Linked DNA regions of Homo sapiens: region 1 is linked to region 2. Evidence: fine-mapped expression QTL. A gene starts in region 2. The other region holds a variant in brackets. All regions are shown on one strand. Distances are between the middles of the regions.

The links. PIP is the estimated chance that this variant, and not a neighbour inherited with it, causes the effect.
Region 1: its variant is the best candidate, but not a certain one, in a credible set for the expression of STARD10 in sun-exposed skin (GTEx, PIP 0.53).

The regions. Positions count from the first base shown.
Region 1 is chr11:72,727,039-72,735,366 of GRCh38, forward strand. It overlaps ARAP1 (ArfGAP with RhoGAP domain, ankyrin repeat and PH domain 1), which reads right to left. Exons shown (of 35, transcript NM_001040118.3): 2 at 5,477-5,559; 3 at 1-134. The coding sequence starts at 90. Among named protein-coding and RNA genes, the nearest start is that of ARAP1, 21 kb to the right of the region's middle. RefSeq lists an enhancer at 2,711-2,780. The variant G/A (reference allele first, on the strand shown) is at 3,412.
Region 2 is chr11:72,789,069-72,797,425 of GRCh38, forward strand. STARD10 (StAR related lipid transfer domain containing 10) reads right to left here and starts at 4,979. Exons shown (of 7, transcript NM_006645.3): 1 at 3,807-4,979. RefSeq lists enhancers at 3,104-3,603, 4,735-5,304.

The sequences.
Region 1 (8,328 bases), 62 kb before region 2:
ATGCTGCTCAAAGAGCCCCGTGTACTGCTCCAGGTGCAATGCCCGCAGCCACTCGGCCACCGATAGCGCAGCATCCCCAGCCTCTGCCATGGTTCCTGCCAGCGGAGGCCTGACTGGCAGGGCTTTGTCCAGAGCTAGAATAGACAGACAGGCACAGGTCAGAGGCAGGGCTGCCGAGGATTGGTCCCCTCACCAGCAGCCTGCATGGCTCTCTCAAGCCATAGGTTCAAGTTCTGTCCTGGAGCTTCCTCCCCTGTGCTCCATGTGCTAAGCAAGGCCAGGTACTGCCAGGTCTCTGAACACACAGGCTCTTCTCTCCGCCTGAACCCCCTCACCCCTTCCCTTGTGCTATCCCAGCATCCAGCTCATGTTTTCTTCTCTAGGAAACCCTCCATGATCTCTGGGGTTGGTACCACCCCACACCCCAACACACAGCCTTGGCCACTGCCGTGAGAATGGCCAGTGGCATGATTGGTGCTGTGTCTTATACCTCCTCCCCACTGCCCTCTGCAAGACCCACGGCAGGGCTAATTCCCTCTGAGGCACCAGTTCCCAGTGAGGGCCAGGCCAAGGGCTTAGCGAGCATTGAAGGATACCACTGCTGGTCCCTCCTGCAAGCCCAGTCTGGGAGCCGAGACTAGCCTCCCCCTACCTCCATGCCCCTGGAGGAAGTGAAATGCTGTGGGACGTGAGTAAACCCAGCATCACATGGCCTCTGGGGGCCTGGCCCTGGAATTGGGTAAACCCTCCCATCACTAAGGCCATTCATCCATTTGTTCTTTCAAAATAGCCTGGCACTAGGCAATGGGGACTCAGGCTCTACCCCTGCACCCTGTAATCAAGAGCTCCTGGCCTGGTGGGAGTCAAGAGGTGATATGAAGAGGTGACCAAAAGAGGTGATTAGCAGATCAAAGGGAAAAGTCATCTGATTATCTCCACAGACACTAAAGAGGCATATGATAAAACCCAATATCCAGCTTACTTACACAAACAAAAATCTTACTAAAACAGAAATAAATTGATACTTTCTTAAATGAGAAAAGAATATCCATTTTACTGTTGTTATTATTATTCCTCACATTGCTCTGAAAGCTCTGGACAACAAAAATAAACAAGAGGTCTTAAAATCAGAAAGGAAGAGATAAACTATCCATTTGTTGCCAATAATATGAGTGTTGAGTTTGAAAGCCCAAGAAGGTCAACTGAGAAACTATAACAACCAGTAAAGACTTTAGTAAGACAGTTGGGTTCAAAATTAATATAACAGACTGGCCGGGCACAACTATAATCCTAGCACTTTAGGAGGCCGAGGCGGGTGGATTGCCTGAGCTCAAGAGTTTCAGACCAGCCTGGGCAATACAGTGAAACCCCATCTTTACTAGAATACAAAAAATTAGCCAGGCATGGTGGCATGCGCCTGTAGTCCCAGCTACTCAGGAGGCTGAGGCAGGAGAATTGCTTGAACCCAGGAGGCAGAGGTTGCCATGAGCCGAGATCATGCCACTGCACCCCAGCCTGGGCAACAGAGTGAGGCTCCGTCTCAAAACAAAAACAAAAACAAAAACAAAAGAAACAAACGAAAATTAATATAACAGAAATCAACATTTATAAGCAACAAACAGGTAGAAACCAGGATGAAAGACCCCATTTACAAAAGCATCACAAAATAGAAAACACCAATAAACTTCCTAAGAGATAAACAACAGCGATAGGAAGAAAAATTGGGAGTGTTACTGAGGGACAAAAAGAAGACCTGGACAAATGGCAGAGCACAGTAAGTTCTGGATAGAAGACAACATAAAGAGATTAATGATGTCTAAGTTACTTTATAAATGTACACAATCCAATTAAATATGTACAGAATTTTTTTTGAAGCTGATTTGAAATTTCATGTGGAAAAATAAGCAGGAAGAGTGAGGAAAATTCTGGAAGCAGGGGTGGAGGGCGGGGAGGGTAAAGAGTAGGAGTCAACCTCACCACATGTTAAAACATATTATAAAGCCACAATGATTAAAACAGTATATGGTAACAGTGCATGAACAGACAGATCAATTAAACAGAACAGAAAGTTCAAAAGTAGACCCAAATACATATACAAATTTAGGATACACTAAAAGTAGCCTCTCAAACTTGTGGGGAAACAAGGGATTCTTAAGTTGTTGGGACAGCTGTGGAGTGCTCTCAAAAAAAACTAATGTGGATCCCTATCTCACACTTTACAACAAGAAACATTACAGCTGTATCAAAGACTTCAGTATTTTAAAAAACCATGGCTGGGCAAGGTGGCTCACACCTATAATCCCAGCACTTAGGGATGCTGAGGCAGGCAGATCCCCTGAGGTCAGGAGTTTGAGACCAGCTTGGCCAACACGGCAAACCCTTGTCTCTACTAAAAATACAAAAAATTAGCCGGGCATGGTGGCAAGCACCTGTAATCTCAGCTACTCAGGAGGCTAAGGCAGAATTGCTTGAACCCAGGAGGTGGAGATTACAGTGAGCCGAGATCACTGCACTCCAGCCTGGGCAACAGAGAGAGACTCCACTTCAGAAAAAAAAATAAAAAATAAAAAATGAAAGGATTTACGAAATCATCCTAGGGCTGGGTATGGTGGCTCACGCCTGTAATCCCAACACTTTGGGAGGCTAAAGCAAGAGGACTGCTTGAGGCCAGGAGTTTAAGACCAGCCTGGGCAACACAGCAAGACTCTGTCTCTACTAAAAAAAAAACCTAAAAATTAGGCAGCTGCACACTTGTAGTCTCAGCTACTTGTGAGGATGAGGTGGGAGAATTGCTTGAGCCTAGGAGTTCAAGGCTGCAGTGAGCTATGATCACACCACTGCACACCACTGCACTCCACCCTGGGCAACAGAGTGAGACTGTCTCTAAAAAAAAAAAAAAAAAATCATTTCAGAGAGGCAAAAGCCTTCTGGAAATGAAACAAGTCCAGAAGGCACACAGAAAAGACTGAAATATTCAACTCTACAAAAATCAAGCACTCTTGCATGGTAAAAAGCACCATAAGCAAAGCCAAGAGCTAAACAACAAACTAGGGGATATCTGCCACTCATATTCCACACAAAGGGCTCATTTTCCTAAAAGTTGAAAAGCATGCAGAAATAAGAAACGGATCAATAATCTAACAGAAAAATGGGCAAAGAGTATGAATGAAAAAATTTACAAAAAGGAAAATATAAATGGCTCTTAAATATCTGAAAAGGAACTTAACCTCCCCCACACTAGGAAATATGAATGTAAAATATTTTGAAATACTGCTTTCTACCTATCAGATTGTCAAAGAGCAATAAAGTTGGAAAATACAGGCATTGGTGATGTGGTAGGGCATCCCTTCCCTGGCTGTGGAATGCCTCTAGGCATGAAAGCCCTAAGAGATGCAGATGTCTGGGCTGGGC[G/A]CGGTGGCTCACACCTGTAATCCCAACACTTGAGGTCAGGAATTCGAGACCAGTCTGGTCAACATGGTAAAATCCCGTCTCTACTAAAAATACAAAAAGTTAGCCAGGCACAGTGGCAGACACCTGTAATCCCAGCTACTCAGGAGTCTGAGGTGCAGGAGAATCGCTTGAACCCAGGATGTGGAGGTTGCAGTGAGCCGAGATCACACCATTGCATTCCAGCCTGGGGGACACTTTGTCCTCCCGCCTCCCCCAAAAACAGAGATGCAGATGGCTGACCCAGCCACCCATAGGCACTTAGCCTGCATTTTTACTGGCACCTGCCAGAATTGACATATATAGAAGGTTACTAGCTACAGTGCCTGTGTTTAATAGCAAAAGAATGGAAATAACCAAAATGGCCATCAATGGGAGAATAGTTAACTAAATTATGTTGTAGTTGTGCAATAGAATACTGAGCGGCCATAAGAATGAGGAAACTCCTCACATATTGACATGGGATGATCTATAAGATACACTGTTAAAGGAGTAAAGAAAAGTGCAGAACAGTTTGTGTAACATTCTCTCTCTGTGAAAAAAACAAGGGGGAGCATGGAGTAGTGTGCAGCTACTGGTAAATGAACAAAGTATCTCTGAAAAGACACATGAGGGCAAGGTGACAACAGTTATCAGCTTCCTCCTAGGACGAAAACTAAGGCCTGAAGGGACAGGAGGGAACAGTGGAAGATGCAGAGTTCACAGGGCCTGAAGTTCATGGGACCTGAAGCTTACACAATTTAAGTGCCCTCTGATATGGTTTGGATGTTTGTCCCCTCCAAATTTCATGTTGAAATGTGACCCCCAATGTTGGAGGTGGACCTAGTGGGAGGTGTCTGGGGTCACGGGGACAGATCCCTCATGAATAGCTTGGTGCCCTCCCCATGGTAACAAGTGAGTTATCACTCTATTTGTTCATGTAAGAGCTAGCTGGTTAAAAGAGCCCGGCTTCTCTCTTGCTTCCTCCCTCACCATGTGACATGCCTGCTCCCGCTTTGCCTTCTGCCCTGACTAAAAGCTTCCTGAGGCCTCACCAGAAGCTGAGCAGATGCTGGTGCCATGCTTATACAGCCTGCAGAGCCCTGAGCCAAATACACCTCTTTTCTTTATAAATTACTCAGGGTATTCCTTGATTGCAATACAAAACAGACTAACACATTCTCCTTAAGAGTATCTCACTTTTGCAAAATTCACAAAAACACATGACCACATGCACACACTGTTCAGGACCCTCTTTAGATCCTGGAAGGAGCCCTGCACCTCAAACTCCAGCTTCCCTGGAAATCCACCTCTGAGGAGAGGGAGACTTTTCACTTCAACATATAAAGATGTCAGTTCCTCCAGGGTTAAGCTAAAACTTTAACACCATCCCAACTAAAATTACCAGCTGGAATTTGTTGAGACCAGCAGATTCTAAAGTTCATATAAAATGATATTAGAGATGTGTTAAGTGGAAAAGCAAGATGCAGAACAGTGTTATGTAAACATCTCGGTTAAAGAAAAAGAAAAAAATATACATATGTTATATATATATGCAAATATAAACACAGAAAACTGGACGGATATATATAAAACTGAGTTTGGGGAGGGGAATTGACAGCTGGGAAGACAGGAGACACTATACCCTTCTGTATCTTTTAAATTTTGTATCATTTTCCAAAAAGTAAATAAAAATTAAAAGGGAATGTGATAACCATGAATAGAGCCTGAGAATGAGAAAGGGAACAAAACTTGCCAGGCAGGGAGGGGAATCCAGTGAGGAGATACATAAACACAGACCTGCAATTCAGCCTGCTGGCCCCTGCCTTGTCCCTCTGTCTCGTACCCCCACCCTGTTCCAAGGTTCCAAGGCCTGCTGGGAGGCTCGTAGCAAGCTCTCTGGGCCTCACCCTCTGCCTCTCAAGCTCAGTTCTCAAAATGGAAAATGGGCTATCAGGTGTCAGCCTCCATCAAGCCTTCCCCGACCTCAATGTTAAGGCCTAGCGTGCCACAGCCAGCCCTGTTCCCACCGCTCCACCTCCTGACTCACCAGCTGGGCTGCCAAGGACGCCCGGGTCCTCCCAGAGACAGCAGCTATTCTGAAGGGCTCCTCATCTCGGCCTGAGGCGGGAGCTGCAAGGACAGGGATGGAGGAGAAAGCCCGTGAGGCAAGGCCACTATGAGATGCCAGAGAAGGAGAGGGGAAGAGGGAGAGGGACAGGGAAAAGGAAAGAAGAAATGGGGGCCAGGCACAGTAGCTCACGCCTGTAATCCCAGCACTTTGGGAGGCAGGTGGATTCGAGTCCAGGAGTTCAAAACCAGCCTGGGCAACATAAGAAGACCCCATCTGTACAACAAAAATACAAAAATTATCCAGGTGTGGTAGTGTGTGCCTGTAGTCCCAGGAACTCAGGAGGCTGAGGTGGGAGAATCACTTGAGCCCAGGAGGTGGAGGCTGCAGTGAGCTGTGATTGAGCCACTACACTCCAGCCTGGGAAACAGAGCCAGACCCTGTCTCAAAAAAAAGAAAAGAAAAAAGAAGAGATGGGGAAGAGGTGGAAGAAGAGGAAGAGAAGGAAGAGGGAAGAGGAAAGGATTCGGGGAACCTCATGCTCATGGAAACTGGCAACAGAAGTCAGACCAGAGGAAGGCCTTCCTGGAGGGAGAAGGCAGACAGACAGGCCTGTCCAGATGTGGGGGCTGCACAGGTGGTAAAGAGGAGTCAGGACTTCCCCACTCTCTGGCCCTGCAAGACCAGTGCTGGGATGTGTGTAGGGGCAGACTGTGGAAGGGACAGCCCCAGGAAGGGTGAGGAAGGGACAATGCAGCCCTGCGACTAAAGAGGTCTCCCTGACACAGAGCCTGTCAGGAGAGGTGGGGGACCTTAGAGGACCCAGGGACACAGGACCCTCTCCACTAAGCCTGGGGACCATGAAGTGGCCTGAGGGCACAAGTAGGGTAACTGAGTCAGGGGCATGAGACCCCAGGGCCCTGCCCCTAAATATGTAGGGGAGGTTGAGGAAAACAGACCAAAAGGGGATGCTTCCAGGCAGGAGGAGAAAGAATAGGATATTCCTGACAGGCCACCACCCTTGCTATGCAGACAGCCGGAGCTCTGTGGGGCTAGGGACCAGTGGAGTGGCATGGACAGGTCTCCCTCCCCAGGACCTGGAACAGTCAGGTCTGCCAACACTAGGGTTAACTTCAAAACTGCTGTGCTCTGCATAATGGCTTCAGTAGGTATTCATGAACATTTTACATCTTACAAACACATAAACAGGTATTTATCTTAAGCAAACTCCATGATTATCACTGCCTAGGATAGGGCTAAAACAGGTATACATTTTTTAAATATTTTATTTTAGTTTATTTATTTTGAGACAGAGTCTAACTCCGTTGCCCCAGCTGGAGTGCAGTAGCGCAATCTTGGCTCACTGCAGCCTCCACCTCCCAAGTTCAAGCACGATTCTCTTGTCTCAGCCTCCCGAGTAGCTGGGACTACAGGTGCGTATCACCATGCCCAGCTAATTTTTGTATTTTTAGTAGAGACGTGGTTTTGCCATGTTGGCCAGGCTGGTCTCGAACTCCTGACCTCAAGTGATCCACCCACCTCAGCCCCCCCAGTTGCTAGAAGTACAGGTGTGAGCCACCACACCTTGCCTTATTTTATTTTTGAGACAGGGTCTTGCTCTGTTGCCCAGGCTGGAGTGTAGTAGTGCAATCATAGCTTACTGCAACTTCCAACTCCCAGGCTCAAGCAATCTTCCTGCCTCAGCCTCCTGAGTAGCTGGAACTACAAGTGCATGCCACTGTGCCCAGCTAATTTTGTTATTTTTTGTAAAGACAGGGTCTCGTTATGTTGCCCAGGCTGGTCTCAAACTCTTGGCCTCAAGCAATCCTCCCACTTTGACCTCCCAAAGTGCTTAAGATTATAGGCATAAGCCACTGCACCCAGCCCAAAAGTCAATACTTAAAAAACAACCTTTAAGTAGCTAGCACTTCAGATGAAAGCATTGGCAAAAATGGCAGTGCTACTCAAACGACAATTTGAAACAAGAAAAAGAGACCACATAAACAGTGCTTACTGCATGCCAGGTATCCAAGTACTTTATATTAACTCATTAAAGCCTCACAGCAGCCCCAGGAGATACATATGATTGCTATCCCTGTTTTAAGGTGAAGAAACTGAGATAAAGGGAGGTTAAACAACTTTCCAAAGCCACACACCTAAGAAGGAGGCAGTATGAATATAGTCTAGCCCTGTGCTGTCCAATAGCAGCCAGCAGTAGCCACACGTGGCTGTTGGACATTTGAAATGTGGTCCCTGGAATATGATGTGCTAGATTTTGAACACAGTGGATTTTGAAGACTGAGCACAAAAAAAAAAAAAAAGAATGCAAAATATCTCAATAATTTTCCCTATTGTTTACATGATGAAATATATTATTAACATTAATTTCACTTGGACTGTTTAAATTGCATTGTGGCTTACACTCTATTCATACTGGAGACTGTAGCTCTCAACTTTTTTTTTTAGACAGGGTCTCGCTCTGTCACCCAGGCTGGAGTGCAGTGGCACAATCTCTGCTCACCGCAACCTCTGCCTCTTGGGCCCAAGCAATTATCCCACGTCAGCCTCCCAAGTACCTGGGACTACAGGCTTGCACCACCACGCCCGGCTAATTTTTCCATTTTTTTGTAGAGATGGGGTTTTGCCATGTTGCCCAGGCTGGTCTTGAGCTCCTGGGCTCAAGTGATCTACCTGCCTCTGCCTCCCAAAGTGCTGGGATTACAGGCGTGAGCCACCAGCCTTTGGCCATCCACTTTTAACCACTCTTCACGGCCTCTCAAAACACAAACTGAGGGCCGGGCGCAGTGGCTCATGACTGTAACCCCAGCACT
Region 2 (8,357 bases):
ACTTCTGGCCTCAAGCAATCCTCCTGCCTTGGCCTCCCAAAGTGCTGGGATTATAGGTGTGAGCCATTGTGTCTGGCCTCAGTTGTTCCATCTAAGTTGGGTGGACTAATAGAATTTCTGTCATGACAATGAGGATGAAGTGAGTTAATCCCGTGGAGTGCTTAGCACAGTGCCTGGCACACAGTGAGTGCTCAATAACTGCCACAGCTACTATCAGTTCTCAGTTCCTGAGCTTCCTTCCGCCAGGTCTGGCATCTGTCTCCGAGGCCTGGCCTCTGTCCTACATCTTTGTTCCTCAGTCTGGAGGCAATGATTTCTTTCTCCTGAGTGGGGTTAACCTAGAGCCTGGAGGGTTGAGAGGGAAGAGAGGTAGCTGAAATGACATCTTGTCCCCCTCCCTCACCCCCAATCCAAGCAGAGCTGCGAAAGGCCTGGTGTCAATGGCATTTGCTCCTTGCACCCACACAGCCCCTCCTCAATGTCTGACAGCTGCATGCTGGGACAGCAGTGAGGCACAGGGGGTCTGGCCATGTCTAGCCAGAGGGCAGCATGGCACTGAGAGGTCCACATTCCAGGGGCTGGCTCCCAGGACCGCGTGAGGACTGGTGTGGGTGGAATTCTCTAGGGGCTCTGTCTGAGAATGGGGCTGAAGGCTCTGCCCTGGGTCAAGGTTCACCCTAGGTTCCAAACCCACACCTGGAACAGGCCTGCAGCAGGCTCAGCTTCCATGGGCACTGCTATCTGGGGACTCCTGCCAACCACTGCTCCCTGCCGTGAGTCCCTGGTGTTCTGGGTCAGCAGGTATCTCCACAGGCTTCCCGGGGGAAGACTGCCTCTTTCAGCACCTTCTAAATTTAGGGCTTGGGCTCCGTGACTCACTCCTCTGAGCCTGCTTTGCTCCCCTCCTCCAGGAATGTGCTCCCACAGGATCTGCATCCTCTGCTGCCTCAGACTGATGAAGGCCCCACAATCCTGCAGCAGCCACACGCACACCAAGGAGAGCTCTCGGCCCCACTCGCCCCAGACCGGCCCTGGGTTTCTCCCGACTGGGCCCTGTACTCTCCTTCCCTTACCTCTCCATCTTCCCAACCCTCCCTGCAAACCACAGCCCACCCAGGTGGCTACATTGGGAGCTGGCTCCAAGCATGACTATGAGGGTAGTGGGGGGAGGAGAGGTGGAATCAAGCCCTGCCCCCTCCCATGTGGCTGTGGGCAGAGCCCTCACCTGAAGTCAGGAGGCTTGAGTTCTGGACCAGACTCACGCTTACCTCGCCGTGGGGCTCTCAGTGAGTTCTGGCCTCTCTGGGATTCTCTTTCCTCCTCTATAAATAAGGAGTTTGAACCAGACTTCCATTAGGGAAGCTTGAAACAGAGCTAAAGTGAGCACAGGGCCAGGCCTCCAACTACTAACAAGGTGGGCCGGGGGGGTATCTGATGTCAGGCCCTGTCTCCCACCCAGGCGCCCCTCTTCCCCCAGCCCCTGCTCCATGAGGGGAAACGAGGACCAAGAACCTGCTGTTAGCATTCATGGACTTCTGCCATGCAGGGAGGAAGCTCATGCACAACCCCACACCCTGAAAGGGCCAGAAAGAGCCCAGGATCTTGTTCTGGTCTGACTGTCCAGGGCTGTAATGTGTAGCTTTGAGTAAAAACCATCTTCACTCTTGGCCTCAGGTTGTGGGGAAGAGAATCATGTGCATGTGCAGGTGTAAACACTCGAGACATTTCTCCCCTGCCAGCTTCCCAGAACTGGAGGAGGAGATGGGGACATGGGTCCTCCCTTGACTTTCAGAAATGCAGGCACCCAGGGCAGGGTGTGGAGGTATCTAGAGATGGTCAGACCTGGGGCTGCTGCTTCTCTGCCCCTGCATTGACTTTTGGAGAACCCCATCTGCGGCCTGCCTCGACCTGTGTTCACAAGTAACAACAGTGGCTAACAGTTACTGAATGCTTACCACGGGCCTGGTGCTGGTCTATGCACTTAACAGGTCTTAACTCATTTAATTTATAGGTAAACCTTGATAACAGGTCTTAACTCATTTAATTTATAGGTAAACATTGAGACAGTCCCAAGGCTTAGCATCCCCACTTTACAGACAATTTGAGGCTCAGAGAGGGGCAGGGACTCACCTGGGGTCACAGTCTTAAATCACTGGGAGGGCTGGTTAAAAGCCAGGTCTGAGGGCAATCCTGGCTTCTATTTGCTACCCCAAGGTAGTCCTTCTCGGAGTATACATTAGACACTAAATAAATGTTTGATGAAGATGTTTGACTACTGCCATGTAATGGAAAGATCCCTGTCGTAGTCCAGTTCTACCCCAACTCCTTGTGTGTCCTTAATAGAGTCCTTTTCTGGCCGGGCGTGGTGACTCATGCCCATAATCCCAGCACTTTGGGAGGCCGCGAATGGATCACCTGAGGTCAGGAGTTTGAGACCAGCCTGGCCAACATGGTGAAACCGTGTCTCTACTAAAAATACAAAAAATTAGCCAGGCATGGTAGTGGGCACCTGTAATCCCAGCTACTTGGCAGGCTGAGGCAGGAGAATTGCTTAAACCCAGGAGGCGGAGGTTGCAGTGAGCCAAGATCGCACCCTTGCACTCCAGCCTGGGCAACAAGAGTGAAATTCCGTCTCAAAAAAAAAAAAAGAGGTCCTTTTCCTTCTTTAGCCTCAGTTTCTCTGGCTGAAAAACAGAAATGATAAGTGAAGGCCCAGATAATTAAATGCTTGGAGGTGAATCCAAGATCCACCTCCAGATAATTCCATTGAATTATCTTGGATACCTTTTTGTTGTTGTGTTTTGTTTTGTTTTGTTTTGTTTTGAGACGGAGTTTCGTTCTTGTTGCCCAGGCTGGAGTGCAATGGCACCATCTCGGCCCACGACAACCTCCGCCTCCTGGGTTCAAGCGATTCTTCTGCCTCAGCCTCCCGAGTAGCTGGGACTACCGGCATACACCACCACACCTGGCTAATTTTTTTTTTTTTTTTTTTTTTTTTTGAGACAGAGTCTTACTCTGTCAGCCAGGCTGGAGTACAGTGGCGCCATCTCGGCTCACCGCAAGCTCCGTCTCCCGGGTTCACGCCATTCTCCTGCCCCAGCCTCCCGAGTAGCTGGGACTACAGGTGCCCGCCACAACGCCCGGTTAATTTTTTTTTTTGTATTTTTAGTAGAGATGGAGTTTCTCCACTTTGGTCAGGCTGATCTCAACCCCCAACCTCAGGTGATCCGCTCGCCTCAGCCTCCCAAAGTGCTGAGATTACAGGCGTGAGCCACCGTGCCTGGCCTATCTGGGATATCTTGAAGGATCTTGGATTTCTATTTCTACATATACCTGCCTTTCATGACTTGCCTGGGGAGGCCCAATCTGTAATGAGACCTCAGGGTCTCCCAGCCCTTCCCCCAACCTACCCCCAAAACCTCTAAGAGCACTCTAGAGAGAATCAGCTGCATACAGCCCAGCTCCACCGCTCCAAGGGTCAGAGAAAAGTCCCCTTCCCTGGGGTTAGCTGCATGATCCTGCAGGTGCCATGGTGTGCCTAGGTGCCACCTCGCTTCACCTGGCTGGGGAGTGGCTCCTAGACCTCAGCTCAATGCGCATCACTTCCCCTTCTCATCAGCCAGGCCAGCCCAGGTATCACCTCCAGCTCCACTGCCCCCAGATGGAGTTACCTGAGTACCCAATTCCTCCCAAGCTCAGAAACAGTGTCCACTGCCTTCCCACTCCTTTCCATTCAGAGTCTGTCCCCTTAGTGCTGCCCCCTCATCTGTCACACCTGGGTTCTTTCCCTTACTTGGGCCACTGACCTGAGAAGCAGGGTCTGTACAGCTCCAGCAACACTCTCCTCTTCCTCCAGAATTCTCCAGATCCTCCTCAGCTTCTTGGCTCTGGTGCTCATCTCAACACAGCAGGGTCTTCCTCCATCAGGCCAAGGTGGGGGTAGGAGAAGAATTGGGAACAGGGACTCCCCTAGGTTCTCAGGGTACAGTCAGTCAATCTAAGCCTGTATCCAACAAAGACACTGACCCCTGGGGTACAAGGAAGGGCTCCAGGCCCAAAGGCAGGAGGATTAGGCTTTAGCTCTTGCTCACAGCCTGCTGAGACCTGGGGCAAGCCCCTGTCCCTCTTTGGGCCCTCAGGTTTGCAATTTGCAGAATGAGGAAATGGGTTCCTCAATCTACAATCACCTGACTATAATAATATTTTGCCTTTATATACCGCGTGGGTAAATTCCTGAAAGTAAACTAAGCTGTTTTCACCCCTGGATCTCATTTGATCCTCCCAACAGCCTGTTTGCATTTACAAATGAGAAAGCTCAGTTCCCTAAGGGAACAAAATTACCCAAAGTCACACAGCAAGCTGGAAGCAGAGCCTGGGTGCAGTCCTTGAATCCTGATCCTTCCCTGGTCCTTTACTCTCTATGATGCTGGAAATCTGCCTGACTTCCTCTAACCTGTTGTCCCATTTGTAAAAGGACTGTTGTGAGGACTGAATTAGGAGAGGCGATGAAGAGGGTCATTCCTTGTGAATCATAAAAGAAAGGACCACAGAACGATGACTGGACCGTTAGGTTACTATTTATTACGGTTATCTTCGCTCAGGCGCCCCCACGTGTCGATCCCGAGACTCTCGGCTTGCGCAGGCGCTCTTTGGTGTTTACAGCGGCCGCGAAGCCCCGCGTTTGCGCGTGCGCTTCCCGCCCGGGACCGCCCAGAGGTCCCGGACTAGGGGCGGACTAGGGGCCGCTCTGCCTCCCGCCCCCTAGTGGTTGTGGCCGCTCTGTCACCACGGCTCCCGGGGCCTCTGTCGGCTCCACTTTGGTTGAGACGTCTCCACAGCCCAACAACGGCGGCGATCTGAGGAGAGGCAGGAGAAAATACGGCGCGCTCGGCATCGTCCTTCTGACCGGGGACTCCAGCATCTCAGTCATCGCGTCACCAAGCCCCACGTGCAGGTTCTGGCATCCATCATGGCAAACTGGAGACCGCGGTGAATTCCACCGGAATGGCGCGCGCATTGCCACATGGGAACTGTAGTTCTTGGCTAGGACCTTTCTGGGGCTGGGCCGCTGGAAAAACTACATTTCTCAGGAGCTCAAGAGTCAGGCTGACAGAAAGGGGGCCCGCGGCATGTTGGGAGATGGAGTTTGGGGGGTTCGTGCTAGCAGGGAAACAGTGAAGCAATGGAGCCAAGTGTTCTGAGCCTGGGCCTGTGGGTTTGAGTTGGGCAGGAGTTACACAGTAGCTCTTATAAGAGAGGAGTAGCATTGTTGCGGCTTTTAGAAAGAATGCTACTTATTAGTTGTGTGATCTGAGCGATCAAGACAAATGCCCCTTTATCTTTTTTATTTATTTATTTTTTGAGACAGGGTCTCTGTCTGTCAGGCTGGAGTGCAGTGGCCCCAGAACTGCTGGCCTCCCGCCTCACCCTCCCAAAGTGCTGGGATTATAGGCGTGAGCCATCAGGCCTGGCCAGATGCCTTTTTATCAACTACGATGGACCTTAAGGTTAAGGTTAAGGAAACAAACGTTGCCTACCTCAGGGCTCAGCTGTCAGCTGGCATGGCAACTTCTTAAATTTCTACTGCTGCCAGAAAAACCACACTCTTACTAAACCCCTAGCAATAGGAGCTATCATGCAAATTGTCAGACTCTTCTTTACTGAGATTTACAACTCAGACCACTACAACGCTGATCGACAGAGGACAGGCCTTACAAACATTCTTTCCTGATAAGTAACTGCAGACCTCAGGCCAGTTTCAGCAAGCTCATAGAGACTGCACGCAAACTGTGTTTGTGTCCTATAGTCCACCTTATGATGCAAAGAACCAAATTCCACCTCACTTTAACGCAAAAACCCCATCCCAAAGTGAACATGGAACATATGTTACAGGTGTTTACCCATTGTGCATGCACTCACATCCCCTCATAAATATGTATAGCTTTTCCCCAAAACCTGCTGAATATGTATGATTATTGTGAAATACAGACCCTGTGAGTCATAAACCAGCCTAGGCCGGGAGTGGTGGCTCACGCCTGTAATCCCAGCACTTTGGGAGGCCAAGACGGGCGGATCACGAGGTCAGAAGATTGAGACCATCCTGGCTAACATGGTGAAACCCCGTCTCTACTAAAAATACAAAAAAATTAGCTGGGTGTGGTGGCGGGCGCCTGTAGTCCCAGCTACTCGGGAGGCTGAGGCAGGAGAATGGCATGAACCTGGGAGGTGGAGGTTGCAGTGAGCCGAGATCGCACCACTGCATTCCAGCCTGGGCGACTGAGCGAGACTCCGTCTCAAAAAACAAAAACAAAAAACAACCAGCCTGCCTTTTCCCTATACAAAGAGAGAGCACCTTTGGTACCTACAGGAGAGTGTCTCTTTTCAGTTTGCAAACTGATGTCGCTAATGAAACTGCCCTCTACTATTTAGGCATCCTGGTGTTCTAGAGGGTAGCAGTCTGCACCTCTCACAGGGCTTCCTCTTCCATCACTCCTCAGAGACTGTATTCACAGGGGTCACCTGTGTGTGAGATGCAGTTTGTCTTTTTTGGGGGGAGGGCAGGGGCTGTTCGTTTGTGGTTTTTTTTTTGTTTTTTGTTTTTTTTTTTGAGACGGAGACTTGCTCTGTCATCTAGGCTGGAGTGCAGTGGCATGATCTGGGGCTCACTGCCAGCTCCGCCTCCCGGGTTCATGCCATTCTCCTGCCTCAGCCTCCTGAGTAGCTGGGTCTACAGGCACCCGCCACCACGCCGGGCTAATTTTTTTTTTTGTATTTTTTTAGTAGAGATGGGGTTTCACCGTGTTAGCCAGGATGGTCTCGATCTCCTGACCGTGTGATCCGCCCACCTCGGCCTCCCAAAGTGCTGGGATTACAGGTGTGAGCCACTGTGCCCGGCCTTGTTTTTGTTTTTTTGAGACAGGGTCTCATTCTGTCACCCAGGCTGGAGGCAAGACCATTGTTCACTGCAGCCTGGACCTCCTGGGCTCAATCTATTCTCCCACCTCAACCTCCTGAGTAGCTGTGTTTATAGGCACACACCACTACACCTGGCTAATTTTTTTTTAATTCTCACTTTAATTATGTTTTGCCTTTTTTTTTTTTTTTTTTAGATGGAGTCTTATTCTGTCACCCTGGCTGGAGTGCAGTGGCTCACTGCAACGATCTTGGCTCACTGCAACCTCCGCCTGCCAGGTTCAAGGGATTCTTCTACTTCAGCCTCCCAAGTAGCTGAGATTACAGGCGCACACCAACACGCCCAGCTAATTTTTTTTTTTTTTTTGAGAAGGAGTCTTGCTCTGTCGCTCAGGCTGGAGTGCAGTGTCGTGATCTTGGCTCACTGCAACCTCTGCCTCCTGGGTTCAAGAGATTCTCCCGCCTCAGCCTCCTGAGTAGCTGGGATTACAGGTGCTCACCACCATGCCCAGCAATTTTTTTTTTTGTATTTTTTTAGAGACGAGGTTTCACGCTGTTGGTCAGGCTGGTCACGAACTCCCGATCTCATGATCCACCCACCTCGGCCTCCCAAAGTGCTGGGATTACAGGCGTGAGCCATCATGCCTGGCCTAATTTTTGTATTTTTAGTAGAGATGGGGTTTCACCATGGTGGCCAGGCTGGTCTCAAACTCCTGACCTCAGGTGATCCCCCTGCCTTGGCCTCCCAAAGTGCTGGAATTGCAGGTGTGAGCCACCGCGCCCAGCCTAATTTTTTGTGATTTTTGTAGAGACAGGGTTACGCCATGTTGCCCAGGCTGGTCTCAAACTCTTGAGTTCAAGGGATCCTCCTGCCTTGCCTCCCAAAGTGCTGGGATTACAGGCGTGAACCACCCCACCTGGTCTCAAACTCCTCTTTGGAAAAAAAGTATGGGCCACAGATTCTACTGTGGCTGTTGTCTCTTTCCCAGGTTTGTCCTCAACCATGGTAAAATAAATCTCTAAACTGATAGAGACCTGTCTCAGGTACTTTTTGGTTTACAAAATTGTATTAATAGGCCGGGTGCAGTGGCTCACGCTTGTAATCCCAACACTTTCAGAGGCCAAGGCATGGGGATCACTCGAGGCCAGGAGTTCGAGACCAGCCTGGCCAACATGGCGAAAACTTGTCTCTACCAAAAATACAAAAATTAGTCAGGCATGGTGGTGCACACCTGTAATCCCAGCTACTTAGGAGGCTGAGGCAGGAGAATCGCTTGAGCCTGGGAGGTGGAGGTTGCAGTGAGCCGAGATTGTGCCACTGCACTCTGCACTCTGGCCTGGGCAACAGAGTGAGACTCTGTCTCAAAAAAAAAAACAATTTTTTAAAAATTATATGAATAAGAATGAGGCCGGGTGCTGTGGCTCATGCCTGTAATCCCAGCACT